Regions from separate parts of the Homo sapiens genome. Here region 2 is linked to region 1. The links come from fine-mapping of genetic effects on gene expression. Tissue or cell type: pancreas. Region 1 holds a variant in brackets; the other region holds the start of a gene. All regions are shown on one strand. Distances are from middle to middle.

What was found. PIP is the estimated chance that this variant, and not a neighbour inherited with it, causes the effect.
Region 2: it holds the start of ATP10B, and the variant in region 1 is fine-mapped to the expression of ATP10B in pancreas (GTEx, PIP above 0.99). The same link has a PIP of 0.9 or more in nasal epithelium.

What each region holds. Positions count from the first base shown.
Region 1 is chr5:160,679,275-160,690,418 of GRCh38, forward strand. ATP10B (ATPase phospholipid transporting 10B (putative)) reads right to left here. Exons shown (of 26, transcript NM_025153.3): 4 at 9,486-9,669; 5 at 8,526-8,820; 6 at 6,805-6,999. The coding sequence starts at 8,800. Among named protein-coding and RNA genes, the nearest start is that of ATP10B, 170 kb to the right of the region's middle. The variant G/T (reference allele first, on the strand shown) is at 6,212.
Region 2 is chr5:160,846,337-160,857,480 of GRCh38, forward strand. It overlaps ATP10B (ATPase phospholipid transporting 10B (putative)), which reads right to left and starts at 5,875. Exons shown (of 26, transcript NM_025153.3): 1 at 5,605-5,875.

The sequences.
Region 1 (11,144 bases):
CTTACAGAAGACAGATGCTCCAAGTCTCAGTAAAAAGTCAGATTAAAAAAATATATAATCTATATTATTCTTCCACTAAGTTTCTATCATTTCTTGGTCCTGGTCTTTCTAATACCAGCATAAGCCACACATACAACATTTCATTGACACAGGAACAGGCTGTGAGCTGAAATATGTTCCCTCTGCCTGGCTAAATGTTGCTCCTCCTTCAGGGCTCTCCTGAAATTTTACTTCTTTTACTGAAAGCTTCCCTTGGCCTTGACGTTTCTGCAGGTGGGTGGGTCACCACATCCTCTGCACTTCTGTGTCCCTTTGCAGGTAGGCTACCGAAGCACGTGGGACATTGTAGCTATTTGTAAGTTCCTCGTGACCCCTAGACTGAGAGTCCTTTGAGGGCACATAAGGTTTGCCATGGCAATGCACACACTAAGTCTTGAATTAAAATTTGCTGAATAGATGAATAAGTGAGTGACCAGCTGCTGAAACTGTGGAGGGCTTAGGTTTCATTACAATAAGGAACCACCCTGGATTCCCTCAGTTCCCATTCCCTGCTCTGTACTGCATGTTTTCTGAATACAAATAAAAATTTACTAAGCTGGATGGAAAAATACAAATCTGTGGCTGGTATGGTTTCTAGATTCATTAAACTGAGCCCTGGGAGAAGCTAAACTAATACAATTCTGAAGCTAATCTCTCCTCGAAGTCATTCCATAAATCTGATTAATGGGTCACCTTTAGACCACAAACACGGTTGCTATATTAAAAGAAAATGCTCTAACGGGATTGTAATTCTGTCAACAAGGCTTCTGCTGTTTGTAAAAAGACATTTCCTCACAGTATAAACAAGTCTAGGGTGGATGATGCATGGGCTTAGGTCATGAGCAAAATTCCAAGGGCTCTAGTATTCAATTGCACAAAAATGAAAAAAAAAAGCATCAGTTGCTCAAATGTGTAAATTTGAGGTGAAATAAATAAAATGGATAGGGCTAGGGCATGAGATGTAATTTCTTATGTTGCTTCCCAGAAAAAAAAAAATTGTCCTCTTAAATCTTGTATTCTTTTCCTGACATCTGTCATGTGTCCTTGATATGGCAAAAGGATATGTCTTTTAGCATCCATCAGTTAAGATAATAACTAACACTTATCTATTTAATAGCATGTCTTAGCTTCCTCTGTTGGGGTCTTTCATAGAATCAATCCACTTCAGAGGTGGAAAAACTTTAGGGACATATAGTATAGAATGTCCCAAGATGTGTATATTCCTGCTAATACGTGGAAAGCAATTTACAAAGAGTCAAGTCTCAAAAATATTTTAAAGTGATAGTGTTGAGGACATTGAGGTGGCTTCTCCAACATCTGTTCCTCATTCTGCTGGAAACTATCTTATTTTTAAAAAAACTTTGGCTTTTACATCTTCCTGGAATGGCCCATAGGCTTTCAGGGAAGCTGACTTCATGCTGGGCTCTGTGGGTGGGGACTGTGGCTCAGGTATAACCTAGTTAGTACAATCCCATCTCTTGCCCCTAGGGATTGGTTTAGGGATGAACAAGTGAGGCCACTGAGATGTGAGGAGGCTCTAGGGAGTAGTAAGCTTCCTTGACCTTCCAAGATGGCTACCAGAAGTGTCTTTCTTTCTCTTTTCATACATGATCACATGTAGATGTGAGGGCTGGAGCTGCTGCAGCCATTTCGTTGCCATGAGAGAAGTCTCCCTGAGAGTTAAGATGACACTGAGGAGGGCTGAATGAAAAGGATTGGTGAGAGCTGGATCTAGGACGCTGATTGAACCATGCTGATCACCCTCCTACCTCAGGACACTTGTAATGACTTAAGCCAAGGAAGTCTCTTCGTTGTTTAAACCTGTTAAAATGGAAGTTTCTCCTACTTGTGGCAAAGAACATCTCAACTGACAGCTGGGTTAAACAAAGCTGATAGGCTACTTACTGAGGGTCATCCTAGAACCTTTATTCTATTAATGTGTAAATTTATTTGGCTATGGGTTCTGTTCTTCCTCAGTCCATCTCACAGGACAAGATCTAGTCTGACTCCCAAATTTCACAAAAGTGGAAACTGAGGTCTATATGTTTAAATGACTTTCCTAAGCTATTAATAGTTAGTCTGAGATCTGGGCCTAGACTACAGGCCTCTGCCTCCCAGGCCTGCATTCTTACCTCAAGGTCATACCCTCTCTCTGTCCCTTGAGGATGAACTTCAAAAGAAGAACCTAGGGCCAGAAGTGATGGCATGCCTGCAATCCCACCTACTTGGGAGTTTGAAGAGGACAGCTCAAGCCAAGTTCTAGACCAGCCTGGGCAACGTACCAAGACCCCTGCCCCCACTGCCCACCTCAAAAAAGCATCAACAAAAAAAGAAACTTATTATTCTTTTGCAGAGACTCCAGATTTCTAGAATATTTTGAAGCAAAGTTTGCAAGTTTTTGGGCTCATAAGCAAAATAGAACTTTAGGTTTCAAAAAAATAGGTCTGAAGTGTTTGAAAAAATTACATCAGTTACAAAATAATATAAAATCAGTTAAAAGTCAGGTTATTTCAAATAAAAATATTAATTTTTAGCTGCCCTAATAAAGCTCAGACAATCTGGCAACAACACTAGGCCTGTACTTCTACATAATAACAATTAGCAGAAGCTAAGTGACCAGCTCTGCCTCCTAGGATAAATGCATGGCCTCCCCACTTTGCCATAGTCACCACCATTCCCTATTGCCTCCTAACACTGATGCCAACTGTCATTGGCCATTTATCAGTCCATGAGTAATACTGCTTTTTATAAACTATTCAGTCCATTTAATTACCTATCTGGTCCCTGTAGCCAATTATTTTTGTATACTTGAAAAAGTAAAAATTCCCAAACTTAGATATTAAAAAATATTTCCAAAGCCCAGTAAATGTAAAGCAACACTGAGTTAATCAAAGATGAACAGGTTTCTTTGCTGTGTCTTTTCTTAGTCCTTCATGGGCTATGGGTCCATTGGAGGAGGGCCAGCATATATAATTTGGCCATGCACGTATTTTTTCGGAGACTATTTCTTTGTCACTGTTATTCCACTGAATACACTTTGGGAAATACTGCTATGAAAACTCCATGCTCCTCCCTGCCAGTGAGCTGGTGGACTAATGTTTCTTTTTTCTAGATTGTTATCATCTTGGTTTTCCGATGTTCCCTGGAAGCTATTTTGGAAACAACAACAGCAGCCTGGCCTAGGTCCTGCCAGCTCCCAGCACAGATGAGTCTGTGGTCTAATCCACACTGAGATTATTCCCAAGAACCAGGCCATGATTCTGCGATATTCTGGCAGAGCGAGGAGAACAGGACCAGGCTCACTGCAGCCCACGTGCATTCCTCCCTGAGGCACCAGCTTCCTGGCTTGCCACTGTGTATATTCCATGGAAAAAAAACAAGACAGTAAGGTGGAAAACAAAAAGTGACGGTGGATTGGTGCCAAAAGAAAAACGATGCTTTCTCGGCCGGGCGCGGTGGCTCACGCCTGTAATCCCAGCACTTTGGGAGGCCGAGGCGGGCGGATCACGAAGTCAGGAGATTGAGACCATCCTGGCTAACATGGTGAAACCCCGTCTCTACTAAAAATACAAAAAATTAGCCAGGCGTGATGGCGGGCACCTGTAGTCCCAGCTACTCGGGAGGCTGAGGCAGGAGAATGGCATGAACCCGGGAGGTGGAGCTTGCAGTGAGCTGTGATGGCGCCACTGCACTCCAGCCTGGGCGACAGACCAAGACTCTGTCCCCCAAAAAAAAAAAAAAAAAAAAAAAAGAAGAAGAAGAAAAGAAAAAAAAGAAAAACAATGCTTTCTCAAACACCGCTTTTTCAAAGGAAGGCATCACACCCCAGCAGTGATTTCATCCTCTCTTTATAATTTTCATATTCAAAGGCGAGGAACGACTAAATGTTAACTCTGGCTGTCCAGTGTGCTCATAACATTCAAGACAATTGGATCTAGCTGGAAAAAAAAATTATCCTTCAGATTAATTTTTCTAAACGTGCAACTGTGTCCCTCCAAGCAAAGAGACAAGAAGCTCATTTGCTGCTGAGGGATGAACATGGAGTTTCTTGCAGGGGTTCTTGGATGATATTGGTAAATACCATCTAAAGTCATTGTATTAGATACTCATCTTGGAGGTTTCCCCTGGCTACAATTTTCCAAGTGGAGTTTGACTCATAAATCCTTTCAGCAGCCAGCTCTAAGCTGGCCACCTTTCACTCCCCTGGAGAAGAGAACCCCTCCTTAGAAGTAAGCAGTGCCTAAATGGCTGGAGTACATACCTCGAAGCAAGCCTCTTTCATTCTAACAAGGACCAGAGCCAGTGCGGAATGTCTGCTGAACTGGGCTGGAGAGTCAAAAGGAATGAGATGGCCTAGGGTGCTGCTTGTGAGACATGGATGTTTTCCTTCTTCAGCAAGAAGTCAAGCTCTTACCTGCTAGAGACTCCATCATCTTAGGCTGCCAACTGCTAGCTCTGAAGGTGCTTTGTCCCTCTAGTCTCTCTGTGAGCCCAGACTCAACTCCCTTGCTTCTTTTAGGACTATGTGGGTTATCACAAAGTTGAGACACACTCTAACTCTGTCTTCTTTCCTTGCCAAGTGAGAGCATGTCCTATCCTGACAACCTAGTTTAGTCATTTGCTCAATGAAACCTTTGTAGAACAATGACATGTATAAAATGACATTAAATAAATGTCTAATGACATCAGATAGTCCAGTCATCCTAGAGTTTAATTCTTCAGATTTCAACTCACCCTAAAAAATATTGCATCTCTGTGCTTAATAATATGAGCACTTACACAAGTTAAAACAAGGTTTCTCAGCTTCAGGACAGGTGGTGTGCAGTCTTTGCTTTGGTTAAGACAACATCAGGGAGAACTCCCAAAAACAGAGTTAGTGATGAAGGAAACGTTGGGTTTGACATTCTAAAAATAATGCAATTTCAGCTTGCATTTACTGAGCATTTGTTGTATGTCATACACTGTGCTAAGTATTTTCTAAGAATTATCTCCTGCAACTCTCACAACCACCTCAGGAATTGTTCAAATTTTAGGAATTACAAAATGAATTTCAGAGGTTATATTGCTTGTCTAAAGTCAGGCAGTTAGTAAGTACTGGAGGCTGTTCAACTCAGGCAGTGTGTCTCCTGTTGTGCTTCTCCTAACACAATACTCCATTGCTCCCCCAAATACAGTGATGCCTCTTCCCTCCCAGTGTCCTCAACCAGCCTTAAATGTGCTCATGGCCACACTGGGTTAAGAGGAGATGAGAATATATGCAAAACTGTTAAATGTTAGACACATTTGAAATAGTGAAGAAAATGCTACATGATAAAGACCTCCTAATTTTAAAAGACTGACTCAATCCTCCTTTTTTCTGGATTGTAGACTATAAAGCTCACTGTAGAGAACTGAACAGCTTCCCTGAAATAAAATAATGATATCTCCCTACTCCATCCCTTCTACAAACAGTAACTGCAGTGATAGCAGCCACAAAAAGATCAGGCTGGGCCCAAGACTTCCCCAGAGTTTTTTGCTTTACCTGCTGTAGATGAGGCACTCTCGGTTATTGATGACTTTATCCGATTTGTACCTCCGGAGGTCTTCCCAAGCGTCCTTGATGGCAGTGACTGCCAGGATAACACAGATTGGTATCATGCTCACCTCAGGCTGGAAAGCATTGACCACAGGGATAAAATTCAGAACCGCAATGCCCACAAAATAGAGATTGGCAAACCGGTGTAGCTGCTCAAAAATGTTTTTGGGGACGAAGGACAACACGGTGTACTTGCTGGTCTTGATTTGATTCCCACGATGATGTCTGTTGGGGTTCTCTTTGTGAGACCATCCTTCAAAGAGCAAGTTAGAGACCACTACTCGCTTCTTGTCTTCTTTTCTTTTCCACCTTTTCCTCCCTTCCTTTTTCATCTCTGCTCAATGTTGTCTTTTTAATTCTCATAATTTAATTTTCATCTTTTACTTGCCTTCTTTGCTGAAAATTTTTCTCTCTTCTTTCAGAAGGATACTAAAAATGAAAAGCCAGGCTGCAAACCCCAGGGGAGAAACATGACAAGGAAAGAGCCTGCAGAGAACAGGTGTGTATCCACCAGGCCACTTCCTTCTACTTGTTTGAGACTCCACCTGTTGGAATGTAGACGTCACCTACAGGTGTCTTCCTTTTCCACCCTGGGCA[G/T]CCAAGAACAGGTGTACCAACTCTGGGTCCTAAAACCTACCTGGTTCTAAAAGCAAGAATTTTCAACCCAAGCAACTGAGGCTTTAAAATGGCAGACATTTTCTTGGTTTGGGAGACACTGCCTGACATCCTCCAAAGAGTTTCTCCTGAACTTAGTCTCCCAAGATAATCCAGCCATCCTAGAGTTTAATTCTTAAGCTTTCAACTCACCTTTAATAATACTGCATCTGTGTGCTTAATAATATGAGTGCTTATACAACTTAAACAAGTTTTCTCAGCCTCAGCACTATTGACATTTTGACTGGTTAATAATTGTTCCCCGGTGGTGTCCTGTGTATCGTAGGCTATTTAGCAGAACCCCCGGATTTTACCCACTAGATGTCAGTAGTACCCCCTACTCCCAGTATGACAACCAAAAATGTCTTCAGACATTACTAAATGCCCACTAGGGGTCGAAATCACCCCCCCTTGAGAATCAGTGAATTAAATAATTTAGGAAAATAAAATCGAAGAAAAGAGACTCATCCTGAGGCTATGCTGATGAGTTTGCCTAACCCATTTGCAAGAGAGAACACAGGGATGGTTTTTCTTACCTTTCATAAATTCGAATGTTGGAGCAGTTTATTGCTTTATCAAAGCGGTGTCTCTTGAAGTCCTCCATGCCATCCTTGATCATGATGACGAACAGGACAATGGCCAATGGTAACATGGTGATTTCTCTGTGGAAGACTTCCATGGAGGGCATCCAGTTCAAAATCACCAGGAACAGGAAATAGAGGTTAGCCCATCTGGAGGGGCAAGCGAAGTGTGAATAAACACTATGGAGAAGAAAAATGTACTTTCTCCCCCATTTCTTCCCTACTGTTTGGCCTTGATCAATTAAACCTTCTCTTTCAGTATCACCTCAAACATTATGGTAATGGATTTGAAGCCAAACCCATCTAGATGTATTTATTATTTCCATAGATTATTGGGGAACAGGTGGTGTTTGGTTACATGAGTAAGTTCTTTAGTGGTGATTTGTGAGATTTTGGTGCATCCATCACCCGAGCAGTATACTCTGCACCCAATTTGTAGTCTTTTATTCCTCTCCCCTTCTCACCCTTTCCCCCTAAGTCCCCAAAGTTTGTTTTGTCATGCTTATGGATGAGACTGGAGATGATTATTCTCAGGAATGGAAAACCATCTAGATTTAAATTCTGTTCCTGTTATTTACTCGTTGTGTGATTTTTTTGAGCTTATTTCCTCTTGCACAAAATGGGGATAGTATTATGGACTTTAAAGGGGTCCCATAAATATTACATGATTTATAATATTTGCATGATATACAGCAGAGGGCTCTGGAGCATAGCAGTTGCTCAGTAAATGGTCACTTATAATAATAATTACAATATTGAGGGTGATATATAAGCACATATTTTAACTTTTAATTTAAAATGATCTCATACATTATCTCAAAAGAGTTGCTGATGTTTTCAAGTTTTCCACGTGCATCTTGCTCTCTCTTGCCACAGTGCCTTTGCATGTACAGGTCTGTCTGCAGGAACATTCTGCTGACTTCTGTCCATCCCTTTTCACTCAGGTAATGCAGTCTCTCTTTCATGTTGTACTTCAATTCCCTGACTTTCTTAACTAGGCCAAGATTTCCTTATTATTCACTATAATAGCACCATATACCTCTCCTTAGAAGTATCTATTGTAGTTACAACTTTATATCAATTTATATAATTAAAAAACTAATGTCTGTCTCTTTTACTAGACAATATATTCAATAAGGACAGTATCTCTCTGCCTCTCCATTTTTTTTATGTATCTCTAGCTCCCAGCTTATGGCCTGAGACAGCATAGAACCTGACAAATATTTGTTGAATGAAAGAATGAATGAAAAAACTTCTTAAGACAAATGCATTTGGATATTAAAGGAAAGGTGGCCCCCAGAGGGTAGCATCTCTGAGTTTATCTAAGTGGTAAATACTTGTTTAAAATATGTATTGGTGGCCGGGTGTGGTGGCTCACTCCTGTAATCCCATCTCTTTGGGAGGTTGAGGCAGGCGGATCACTGGAGCCCAGGAGTTAGAGACCAGCTTGGGCAACGTGGCAAAACCCCATATCTACATAAAAGTACAAAAATTTGCCGGGCATGGTGGTGCACGCCTGTGGTCCCAGCTATTTGGGAGGCTGAGGTGGGAGATTCCCTTGAACCCAGGAGGTGAAGGTTGCAGTGAGCCGAGATTGCACGACTATACTCCAGCCTGGGGAACAGAATGAGACTCTTTCTCTAAAAAGAGTATTGTTCAGACAAGTGGATCTCTACCTATGAAATTGCTCAAAGAGATTCCGGGGCAGGAAGGTGAAGAGGGTGTATTTGGTTGTGCAGGTTCTGTTGCCAGGGTATCTCCTGGAGACCTCTTCCCAATCTTGATGGAATATGCTGTTGTTGGGGAACACGACCCGCTGCTGTGTCAAGTTGTAGCTCTGTCTCCCTTTCTCTGGAGAGAGCAGCGGTGTGGTTTCCGATGGACAATGGGGGAAGCCATCTCTGACTCTCCACTGCCACCGATGCCACGATGAGTCCACTGAGAGGGCCATTTCCAGCAGCAGGCGAAGATCTGAAAACAGACACAGGAGGAGCTATGTTTAGGAGAAACGTGCAGCATGTTGGCCTGTTCATTTCTCCCCCATCCATGCAGGGTAGACACTGAAAGTAGTCTTAACCCACACTTTGACCTACTTCCTTGTAACTAAAGGTCACTAGATCCTGACCATTTGCTTCCCTGTTGTTCCTAAAGATAGGATTTCTGACATTAGAGTCATAAGGATTTTGTTTAAGATTGAGTATCTGAGGTTAGAATCCCTATGTTCTAGGGTGACACACTAAACAAATAATCACATAAATAACATGCTCCTAACACTGGAATACGTGCCATGGGAGCATTGAAGTGGGTGGGACGTGCTTTTGGCCTAATTGGGGCTGTCAGGGATAGCTAAAGTGTGGCTTGCTGGGCTATGACCCTGCAGGTCAGAAGACTAGCTCTGGTTCAGTCCTAGTGGGGAGCTGTTCCTTCACCTTCAACTGATCTCCAGCTTCCTCACTGTGAAATCAGGAACACTATTCTTTCTATACTTATTCCACAAGATTTTTGTGAGGAACAAATTGGATAGTACAGAAAAATATATTGGGACACATCTTAAAACAAAGGAAAAGGTACCTATTCTTTAGGTTTTCTTTGGCGCTAACATTTTCTGATTCTGATGACATTTTCCAGAAACTCACCTGTGGCCGGAACCTCAAAGGAGAGTGATAAGTAGAATAGATGGGAGAGGTTCTTTCCTAGGAAATTTGTCCATGAGGTGACTGGGCTGTGCTACTGTCCAGTCAGCTGGCTTTTCTTAATCTAGATGGCTGGAGTTGGGGATAGGGGATCCCTTTTCTTTTTCTCCACTCCATTTGGTGGTTTCTGAAACCAAGTACTTGATTAAGCAGATGGTCTGCCCAGGTGGCAAAGAAATGCTGCTTTACAGCACATCAAAAAGCTTGTCCACCACCATCGAGTCAGCTTCATCCCTGGGATGCAAGGCTGGTTCAACATACACAAATCAATAAACGTAATTCATCACATAAACAGACACCATGACAAAAACCATATGATTACCTCAATAGATGCAGAAAAGGCCTTTGATAAAATTCAACACCCTTCATGCTAAAAACTCTCAATAAACTAGGTATTGATGGAAAGTATCTCGAAATAATAAGAGCCATTTATTACAAACCCACAACCAATATCATACTGAATGGAAAAAGCTGGAAGCATTCCCTTTGGAAACCAGCACAAGACAAGGATGCCCTCTCTTACCACTCCTGTTCAACATAGTGTTGGAAATTCTGTCCAGGGCAATCAGGCAAGAGAAAGAAATAAAGGTATTCGAATAGGAAGAGAGAGAGTCAAATGGTCTATGTTTGCAGATGACATGATTGTATATTTAGAAAACCCCATATTCTCAGCCCCAAATCTCCCTAAGCTGATAAGCAACTTCAGCAAAATCTCAGGATACAAAATCAATGTGCAAAAATCACAAGCATTCCTACATAGCAATAATAGACAAACAGAGAGCCAAATCATGAGTGAACTCCCCTTCACAAATGCTACAAAGAGAATAAAATACCTAGGAATACAACTTACAAGGGATGTGAGGGACCACTTCAAAGAGAACTACAAACCACTGGTCACACAAATGGAAAAACATTCCATGATCATGGATAGGAAAAATCAATATCGTGAAAATGGCCATACTGCCCAAAGTAATTTATAGATTCAATGCTATACCCATCAAGCTACCATTGACTTTCTTCACAGAATTTGAAAAAACTACTTTAAATTTCATATGTAACCAAAAAAGAGCCCATATAGCCAAGGCAATCCTAAGCAAAAAAAGCAAAGCTGGAGGCATCATGCTACCTGACTTCAAACTATACTACAAGGCTACAGTAACCAAAACAGCATGATACTGGTACCAAAACAGAGATATAGACCAATGGAACAGAACAGAGGACTCAGAAATAATGCCACACATCTACAACCATCTGATCTTTGACAAACCTGACAAAAACGAGCAATGGGGAAAGGATTCCTTATTTAATAAATGGTGCTGGGAAAGCTGACTAGCCATATGCAGAAACTGAAACTGGACACCTTCCTTACACATTATACAAAAATTAACTCAAGATGGATTAAAGATTTAAAGGTAAGACCCAAAACCATAAAAACCCTAGAAGAAAACCTAGGCAAAACCATTCAGGACATAGGCATGGGCAAAGACTTCATGACTAAAACACCAAAAGCAATGGCAACAAAAGCCAAAATTGACAAATGGGATCTAATTAAACTAAAGAGCTTCTGCACAGCAAAAGAAACTATCATCAGGGTGAACAGGA
Region 2 (11,144 bases), 170 kb after region 1:
CTAGTCATTCATAACAGAACTAGATATTGGTCCAAGATAGATTGGACAGAAATATCTGGTTCTTCCTCATAGGTAGTTTTTAAGGTTCTGCCATTGACAATTAAAACTGGAAAAGACCAATCCCATTATTTTACAAATGGGAGAATTAAGACCTAGAGTTCACCCAGCTTCTGATCGCCAAGCTAGTAGTTTTTACTCTATAATGCCACCTGTATTCCTTAATGAGTGAGGGTTTGGGATAAAATCAATATTATGATTGCTGCTATTAGCAGTAGTAGCAACTGTAGCTACTACTAATACATATCCAGCGCTTAGTAGGTACCACCACAAAAAATTGCTATTTTTATGTCAAAAATGGTCAAGTATTTATAATTTCACATGGTTCAACTCATATGAAATGCTGATAACAATGTCAAGTGTTTTTAAGCCTTAAAGAAGGAGCATCTGCAGCCAGACTTTTTGGGTTCCCATGTTGGCTCTGTCTCTTCCTGCCACATTGTGGCTGGCAAGTTAATTACATTTTCTCTGGTATAAGTTCCTACATCCACAACATGGAGCTAATAATAGTAACTATCTCAGAGATTTATTGAGGCTTAAATGATCCTATGCGGTTGAAGCCCTTGAAATAGCAACTGGCAGATAGTAAGTACTCAGTTAATGTTAGATGTTCTGGCTACTTCCAATATTACCTCTTCGATTAATTCTCAGGACAATCTTGTGAGGTAGAAACATTTTATCCTCAGTTTATAGATAAGGAGACTGGAGCTCAAAGAGAGTAATTTGAACTGTTGTCTGCATGATTGCAAGCACATTCTCTCTGTCTTACATGCTAATTTTCAGTTCAGTGCCTGTTAAATCAAGTCTAATAGTTCCTGGGGCATTTCATCAGAATTGCCAATATTTGAGTGTATCTAGCTTCTGGGATTCTATAATAGTCAGTTATGTAAAAGACAATGCAAGCTATTTTATCGTCTAAGGAAGAGAAGCAAGTTTCGCCATTTCTCTGTTTTTAGGTCTCCAGATTCACAAGCATATTGTAAGCAATAAATAAGCTGATAACAGCTTCTGATTTTATAACAGTACAGCCTTGCGGTGACCCCTTATGTATTGCTGCTACTTCCCAAAGAACCCCCAAACCTCAGTTAGAACTGTCCCCTGGATTACTGAGAGGGAAAACTCCATGTGGCACCTGCTAACAAGAACCTGTGCTGTTAAACTTGGTTAGTGTTTTATACAAGACCAAAGAAACACTGTCTTCTCTTTTTCTCCTTAAACAGAATAAGTAGTCGAGAAATTCCTTTGAGAAGCAACAAGATTTGATTGAATTTTTCAGAATTTCTTATTATTGTGTCAAGTTCACTTGACAGCAAAGGACAAACTGCCTTTCAAATGCTATAAATGAATGCATCAGCAATTCAGAAGGAAAAACGCGGGTTATTAAGTAGGAACAAGTCTCTCTGAATATATTTACACCAGCTCATGGAAACCATTGTCCTCAGAAACCTCTGCAAAAATCTATTTTCTAGTGTCGGTATTGCTTTAAGTTTGACAGATGATGGTAAAATACAATGAAATTACCTTTGAGCTCTGATATGTATATCAGCGCCCACATCTCTCACAATTTGATTTTTTATTTTTCCAACACAGCCATCTATTTTCAATATTATCCCTGCACACTCCAGGTTTATGCCTGGGGAAAATAACTATTTATGCCTAAGTCATACTTATATGCAGAATTTACACTATATGTAAACATACACACATACAATACACATGTGTAAATACATATTAGTTAAGAGCTGGAAGGAACCTTTCAGATCTTCAAGTCTTTACTGTCACATTACAAATGAAGAATCTGAAGCCCCAACAGAAATGCTATTGAGAAGGCCACACAGAAACCTGACTTCAAAGTGAGATTTGAGAGAATAAGGATGTAGCAAGTTCCTACTATGTTCTGAGGGTTACAGGAGGCATATTCCATTCATAAGTTCTTATACCATTTCTATGATGTTGGTATCACTCCCATTTGATAGATGAGAAAATTGAGGCTTACAAAAGTAGCACAGCTAAGAAAATAGCACAGCTAATAAATGGCACAAATGAAATTAAAGCACTGATGTAACTAGGTTCTTTCTAGCATACCAGCATTTCTCTAAATACATTCACTGCCATATCACTGACATAATTTTGCTAATCCACGTGCCAACTGTATTTTAACTTTTTTGATTAATTAATGTAAACATTTATAAAGGAAAAGTTTATCACCATTTAAATAGCATGCCATAAAGAGAAGAAAACTATTGCTGAGTTTTAGCTGGACCCTGCTGCTACCTAAAGACATCAAAATTGCATCCAGCTCTCTTTGTTGAAATGGGAGATTAGCAATGGGTAGAGAGGTATTAAAGGTCTAGTCATACCAAAATGAGACTTAATGATGGAAAGAGAGTTGAGAGGGAAAACTTTTACTATGTGATCTAGCTATTTGATATAATACGTGAGTATCACCTAAAGTCATCTTTGTCCTACCTAAGATCATTTTTGGTTCTATCATGGTACCTGTTCTTCACTTTGAGAAACACTGCAGTACATATAGTAACTGGGCATGTTCTCCAGGTCATGGTTCTGGAACTCCATCAGAATCACCTGAAGGCCTATTTAAAACAGATTTCTGAGTGATCCCGAGTTTCTGACTCAGCATGTCTGCGGCAGGGCCTGAGGTTTTGCCCTTCTAATAGTTCCCGAGTAATTCTGATACAGCCGGCCCAGGAAGCATATTTGGGAACCACTGCTCTAGGTTGTACTTGGGGAGGAGGAGGTAGAGAACATACGGTAGCATGTGTGTGAAGATTTCACCATCAATCTTGCTTGTGAGTGGAGGGATCTGGAATTTTTAATTAAGCAGATGAGGCAAAGAAACAATGTATTCTTGTGTTCCTGTGTCACTTCTTCAACTTAATGAGTTCAGATTGATACTGCACCATACCAGAGCGACCTGCAAAAACTTTATCTAAGAGACAAAAGTACCTCCTCTCAAATAATACAAGTTGTTTTCAGGCTGCTAACTATCTGCAAGGCTCCCTGCATTGGCAACAGCAGCCAGTGATCACTAATAACGAAAGCAGAAAATGAGATTCTCCTTCTTTTCTCCAGACGTTTAAGACAGTACTTAATAAACAAAAAATGCCATATCCATTAATATTCTTTCTCATCTGGTTCTCTTAGTAGTAACTAGCAATTATTAAGTGCCTTCTGTGGGCCAATTATTGAATTGTACTGGCAATTACACACACACACACACACACACACTCTTTTAATGTGAGCATTTGACAGGCGCAGTAACTTGCCAAGGTTACACAATTATAGGAAGCAGAACTGTAATTCATATGCAAGTTTTATTCCAAAGCCCGTTTTTTTTCTACTAAACAATACCCACTCCTATTCTGACTACCCAACTTCATCTCTTAATAAAAGGGTATTTTATAAAAAATGAAAAGAAGAAAAGGCTCCAGAAACTTAAACTTTGTAGTTAAAAGAATTGTAAAACAATGTCACCAGAAAATGAGAAATCAGTGACATTTAATCAGCAGAAAAGCTAGAACTCCCTAGGTTCAAAGCAAAATTTAAGAATGCCTGGCTAAGTTTTACTTTAAGGAGAGTGGGTAAATGGGTAGAATCAGTCTCAGGAATCCAACGAGTTTTAGTTTACTTTTGAGTCACAAAAGAAATTTTCATTCCCTTCTGACATGGCAGAAGCTGTTTGAAGAATGAAAGTGGTAGTAGAAGCAACACTGGGCCAGGTGCGGTGCTTACGCTTGTAATCCCAGCACTTTGGGAGGCTGTGGGCGGATCACCTGAGGTCAGGAGTTCGAGACCAGCCTGGCCAACATGGTGAAACTCCGTCTCTACTAAAAAACAAAAAACAAAAAACAAAACAAAAATTAGCCAGGCATGGTGGTGCATGCCTGTAATCCTAGCTACTTGGGAGGCTGAGATGGGAGAATTGCTTGAATCCAGGAGGCAGAGGTTGCATTGAGCTGAGATTGCGCCACTGCACGCCAGCCTGGGTGACAGAGCAAGACTCCATCTCAAAACAAAACAAAATAAACAAGAAGAAGCAACACTGGATTGAGAGCTCTGAGCCTTGGACTCTGGTGTCCTTTTCTCTCAGTAATTCAGACTTCATTTCTCTAGGTCCTAGTTTTATCATCTGTAAACTAGGCAGCTAGACTAAGTTCCATTCCATTCCTCAGAGCTCCGTTCCTTTGAAAGGCAGCCTCCTTCACTGGACTTATCAGTATCACATGCTTCAAAAGATAAGGCTCATCGTTTAGCACGAGAGGAGTATGATTTAACTGTAAAAAGTCAGCATGTGGGTTTCAACCTTCAGTTTCTCAAGAGCCTATTAATCCACCCATATGTGATGTTATACTGCTATACTCTTTAAAAAATACATGATGAAAACCTGAGGAGAGATCCTGAACCCTTAAATCCATATAATTAGGCTGTAAGAAATGAATTTTCCAAGAATTTTTTAAAAAGTCATCAATGGATGAAATGACAAACTCAGTGGGTGTTATTAAGAGTAATTATAGTAACATCTAGACAGAAAACAACATCTGTGATCTGCCTGATTAATGGCTTAATGTAACTGTATGTCTGTTAATGGAATAATACTCCAAGCAGTCTTGACTGTACATTTGCAAGATCTGGAAACAGAGAAGAAACTGTGGAAGAAGGAAGTAGCAGAGTGCCAGATTGGCTTTGGGAGGTCAAGCTCCTCTCTACAGTTTTCAAATTCTCCTCTGCCTACCTGGCAAATTCAGAGAAAATTGCCTGGCAAATTCAGAGAAAAACCAAGTTCCACCAGACACAGGCATGCACTCCTGTAGGCAAAATAACTAGCAGCTCAGTATAATTTTTATTTTTAACATTACTTTTCACCTTAGGGTTAGGGATAGTGTCACTCCAGCCTTAATAGCAGGCCACAGGACTGTCCTAAATGTATTCATCACAGACCTGCATGCATGGGGCTTTTTTATTTTTTTTCTGGAAGGAGTAACTCATACTTAGGGAAAAAACACATTTTTCTTTAAGCAACAGTTTTCTCCTTTGAACTCAAAGGAAAGTCAAGCTTCCCACCTATAGTTGAAAACTACTGCAATATGGCAGCTTCAGAGTTTATCAAGATGAAATTGGGAAGCCATGTAATGATCTCATTCTCTTCCTCAAAGCTATAGTTTCTTTCTGCTTTGAGAAGAAGGCTGTAACTCCATCTGCTTCCTCAGGCTGCACTGGATGAATGCAGGATAGCAGGATATATTATTTATCATAAAATGTATTCAGGCACATTCAGACTGCAAGCCCTGTTGAGTGAGGAAGTAGCATTTGCCATCAGCTTATCATAATGAAATCAATTGACGAAAAATAAAACATTCTGTTAGAAAAGAAATGTGGATCTCGCACCCAGAAAGCCAAATGAAATTTCAAATGCAGTGTAAAGAAAAGTAGTCATATCCTGGGCCTAATTCAGAACTTAGACTTGATGATTCTAAGAGGCAATTACTCCCCCATTATATAGGTTAAGGCCAGGATGCTTTTACTTACCCCAGCAAAGCTGACGTCCCTATTGAGCAGACTCCAGTAGAAGAAAACAGTGCTTGAAAGTGGCGGTATTTCTCTCGCACACCTTGGCTAAAATAGTTCTCTTTCCTATGGAATTTTTCATTTTTCTGATTATATCTGATTATGTCAAGGCAAGGCCTCAAGCTAACACTCCCTCAGAAACTTAGAGAAGATGACACACTGAAAAGAAATAACTGTGACCAATGAAAGAAAAAGGAAAAATAAGCTGCCTCGCTAGGCCCAAGAGTGAAAGAGAAGAATAGCAAGTCTGTGAATGTGAGGCCGAGTCCCAGAACAGTGAAGGCAGTGTTCTTCGACTTGGCTGAACATTTACATTGTTAGACATGGTTCTTGCATAAATTTCTACTTCCTGTGAATCAATGAGCCAGCAATATCAAAATTCATGGTGATTTTTATTCTCTACGCATGGTACAAAATGACTTTGTCCATCTACCTTTGGTAATGCATGTAATTAAGTGTGAGACAATTATAACCTTGCAGTTCTCTTTGGGGGGCCTGAAATATGATTCAGCTGCTGGGTTTCAAGGGCACTTAAGAAAGAAAAGACTCTCTACAGTGACTTTTATATGCATGCTGATGATGAATTTGCCCTCAAAGCTTCAGAAGTCTCATTTTGCAGTAGTCATAGTTTTTATTGATTACTGTTTGATTATACAAAATAAGGAAAGTGGGACCAATATATTATAGTGGCAGATTATGTGAATGGTGCAAACTTACAGAAAATCAGAATTAGTAATGGGCTTATTGATAGCTTCGATTCATACCCTAAAATGAGATTTTCATGTATAATCCTTTTATTAAGTTACCTACAACTCAACTAATTGGCATAAATGTCATGAGCAAGTTGCTGTATTGATGGATAATTATTGATGGGTCCATAAATAAAAGAGAAGGTAGAATGAGCAGTAAGTTGATTTTAAGGGTAGTAAAAAAAAGAAATATTACCAAACTTAGGAATAAAAGGTGTTGGAAAGAAGTGAACATACTAACTTCATGAAAATCTTTACATAAGATTTTGGTTGGTTGGTAGAGTAATTGTGAACTTTGTATGTACCTACAGATCTTATCAGAATACCAAGAAGAAACATGGACATAGGAAACATTTTACAAGAGAAGAAACACCCACACCATCTAAAATCTGCATCGCTGTGTGTGTAAGACACAAGCTAGGAATTTTTAAGAACATGAAATTTGCCTATGCTTTAGACAGTCTAGAATTTTTAAAAGAGCGAGTTGGCATTTCAAAATTCTCCATCTGCTAAAGAGAAGAATGCTTAAGTCCCTGTTCCTTTACTTCCCTTCACTCAGAGTGCTCTGGCTTCTAGGGACGAGTGTGGTCTAGAATCACAGATACGGTTAAATTGCAGAATATTGCACTAGTGGGTAACTGGAGGTTATTTAGTGAAGCCCCCTTGTGCCATGGAGGAGAATGCTGAAGCTCAGAGAAGTGAATACAATTGCTCAAAGCCAAACAGGAATTTGGTGGTGAACATGGGACCTCAAACCACATTGTCTTTCTCCTAAGACTAGTATATTTTCCATCACTGGTCTTTCTCCTAAGACCAGCTCTTTCCCATTATCACTTTCCTGGTAAAGAGAGAGGCACATGCAATTTAGGAACAAATGTGTCTGTAGCATCCCTTGGGTTTTCATGCTAACCAATGAATAGAGAGTCCTCAAATATGTTCATTTTCCAAACTGCCTGGAAATCGTAAATACTAACAGACATATGGCAAATTATTTATAAAATGTGTTGAAATTAAGTGACACTGTCTGGCTAATTAGAACCCTAATAAACAAATAATAGATAAGAAATGCTATGTTCAGTTTTTATTAGAGGGACTATCTTTCTTTTGTTTGGCTGCTGGAATTTTGTAATAAATCATATTTTAAAAATCACACTCACAGAGTTTTACTTATAGTTCCTATTTCCAGCAGGCAATCTTTCTACACTAAGGCAATTTAGCATTTTTGTATGTATTTGCATTTCTTATTGACCACATCATGCTTTTCATTCCTGATTTTTACACAGTGTGTCATGTCTAGCTTTTGTATTCTTGCTGCCCAAACTAGTCAATTAAAGAAGCAATGGTAGACAGAGGCTTTTGCTCCCATCCCCGACACCAGTACCACACAACCAGGATGGATTTCATAATCTTAAGACTATCTTCTACAAGCTGTGCAAGTGTTATTAGTGGTAATTTTTATTTTTTATTATACTTTAAAGTTCTGGGATACACATGCAGAACATGCAGGTTACATAGGTATACACGTGCCATGGTGGTTTGCTGCACCCATCAACCCGTCACCTACATTTGGCATTTCTCCTAATGCTATCCCTTCCCCTAGCCCCCCAACCCCTGACAGGCCCCAGTGTGTGATGTTTCTTCCCTGTGTCCATGTGTTCTCATTGTTCAACTCCCACTTATGAGAACATGTGGTGTTTGGTTTTCTGTTCCTGTGTTAGTTTGCTAAAAATGATGGCTTCCAGCTTCATCCATGTCCCTGCAAAGGACATGAACTCATCCTTTTTTATGGCTGCATAGTATTCCATGGTGTGTATGTGCTACATTTTCTTTATCCAGTCTATCATTGATGGGCATTTAGGTTGGTTCCAAGTCTTTGCTATTGTGAACAGTGCTGTAATAAACATACCTGTGCATGTGTCTTTATAGTAGAATGACTTATAGGGTATATACCCAGTAATGGGATTGCTGGGTCAAATTGTATTTATGGTTCTAGATCCTTGAAGAATCTCCGCACTGTCTTCTACAATGGTTGAACTAATTTACACTCCCTATTGGTGCTAATTTTTACTGAGTACTTTGTGCCAGCACCATGTTAAGTGCTCTACATACTTTGACTCATTTAATTCCCTCAAAAACTTTAATAGATTGACGCAATTATTCTTATTCTACGAGAGAGAAAATGTAGGAAAAGGAATAAAATAACTGTGCTTTCACATAACTAGGAAGTATCTGGGACTCAAACTACAGATTGTTTAACCATTCACCTTTGAAGGACATCTGAGTTATTTCCAGCTCTGTTATAAAGTTGCTATAAACATTTGTGCACAGGTTTTGTGTGAATAGAAGTATTTTTCTAGAATAAATGCACAGACAGAAGTTTAATTCCTGGATTGTATGGTATGTTTAGTATTTTAATAAATGCTTGTTTAGTATTTTAATCCTAGATGTATTTGCACGTTTAGTATTTTAAGAAACTGCGATATTCTTCCAGAGTGACTATACCATTTTACTTTCTTACCAGAAATGTGTGAGGGCCCTAGTTTCTCCGCATCCTCACCAGCATTTGGTGTTGTCACTACTCTTTAGTTATTTCAATAGGTGTATAGCAATATCTCATTTTGGTTTTAATTTGCATTTTCCTAATGGATAATGATGTTGAGTATCTTTTTATGTGCTTATTTCTCAGTTATATATTTTGTTTGGTGAAATATTTCTTAATGTCTTTTGCTTATGTTTTAATTAATTTTTGTTTGTTTTTTTTTTAGTTTTGAGTGTTCTTTATATACTATACCTTTGTCGGATATGTGGTTGGGAAATGTTTTCTTTCAATCCATAACTTATCTTTTTATCCCCTTCACAGGGTATTACACAGATCAAAAGGTTTATTTACATCAATTTTTAAAGCAATATTGAATCAATTTTCCTTTTCACTCTTTGCATACTTCTAAATCTTAAATATTTATCCTATTTCTCTAAAAATTTTATAATTTTATGAATTACATTTAAGTCTATGATCCATTTTGAGTTAAATTTTGTGTAAACTGTAATGTTAAGATCAAGGTTTCCTTGTGTGTTTATTTGGATTTTCAATTGTACTAGAACCACTTGTTTTATGACTGTCCTTCCTCCATTGAATTGTTCTTGTAACTTTGTAAAAAAAAAAATTAGTTGCATATTTGTGTGGATCTATTTCTGGATTCTGGATTCTTCTCCATTGTTTATACCCCTGCCAGTACCAGTCTTGATGACTATAATCATATAAATCTTAAAATCAGGTAGATAGATTCCTTCCACTTTATTTTTTTTCAAAATTGTTTTAACTATTCTTGGTTTCATGCTTTTTCATATAAATTGTATAATAATCTTGTCTGTACCTAGAAAAAACTTTTTGGATTTTGATAGTGATTGTATTAAATTCATATACTAATTTGGGAAAAATGGACATCTTTACTATTTGAATAGTCCAATCAATGGACATAGTGTGTCTCTTCATCTATGTAGGTCCTCTTTCATTTATGTTATCAACATCGTGTAGTTTTTAGCATATGAGTCCTGTACACATTTTGCTTGCTGCACATATGTTCTGGCTGGTATACCAAAATAGAATAAATTTCTGTATGTTTATCTTGTATTCTGCAATTTTGGTGACTTGCTCATTAGTTCTAGGAGTATATTGTAGATTCCTTGGATTTTCTACAAAGACAATCATGTCACCTGCAAATAGAAACGGTATTATTTCTTCCTTTCTAATATGTATGCCTATTATTTTATTTTCTTGCCTTATTGCACTCACTGAAACTTTTAAGGCTATGTTGAATAAAAGTGATGAGAGTGAACATCATTGTCTTGTTCTCAGTCTCAGGGGGAAAATATTAAGTCTGTCACTAATAAGTATAATGTTAGCTGTATATTGTATGTAGATGATTTGAGTTGTATGTAGATGATTTGTATGTAGATTTGTATGTAGATGATTTGAGTTGAGGGAGTTCTCTTGTATTTCTATTTTACTGAGATATTTTTTATCGTGAATGGATTTTGAATTAGTTTTTTCCTGCATTAATTCCATTTGAATTTAATTAATGCATTAATTGATATGATCATGTAATTTTTCTGCTTTAGCTAGTTAATGTGGTCTATTACATTAATTGATTTTCAGATCTTGACCTAGCTTTGCATACCTGAAATAGACTCCATTTGGCCATCATGTATAATTTTTTAATTGATGAATTTTGTTTTCTAATATTTTGTTAATAACTTTTGCATTTATATTCATGAAGGCTTTGGGTCTATAATTTTTTATACTGTTTTTCCTGGTTTTGATATCAGGGTAATACCAGCTTCATAAAACAATTTGAGATATAACCTATTCTACTTTATCTTCTGGAAAATATTTACAGAATTTGAATTAATTTTTCTTTAAACAAATTGTAGGATTCCCCAGTGAAATCATCTGGGTCTGGAAATGTCTTTTTTGGAAGTTTTAAAATAACAAATTCAGTTTCCTTAACAGATATAGAGCTATTGGAAGTATCTATTTTGCATTCAGTGAGTTTTGGTAGTTTGTATTTTTTTTTTTAAGGAATTGGTCCATTTTGTCTAGAGTTGTCTATATTATTTTCTTATTATCCCTTGATTCTGCTGTGTCAGTGGTGATATCCATTTCATTTTTGATATCGGTAATTTTTGTCTATTCTCTTGTCAGTCTTGCTGGAGGTCTATTAATTCTATTTGTTGATCTTTTAAAAGAACCAG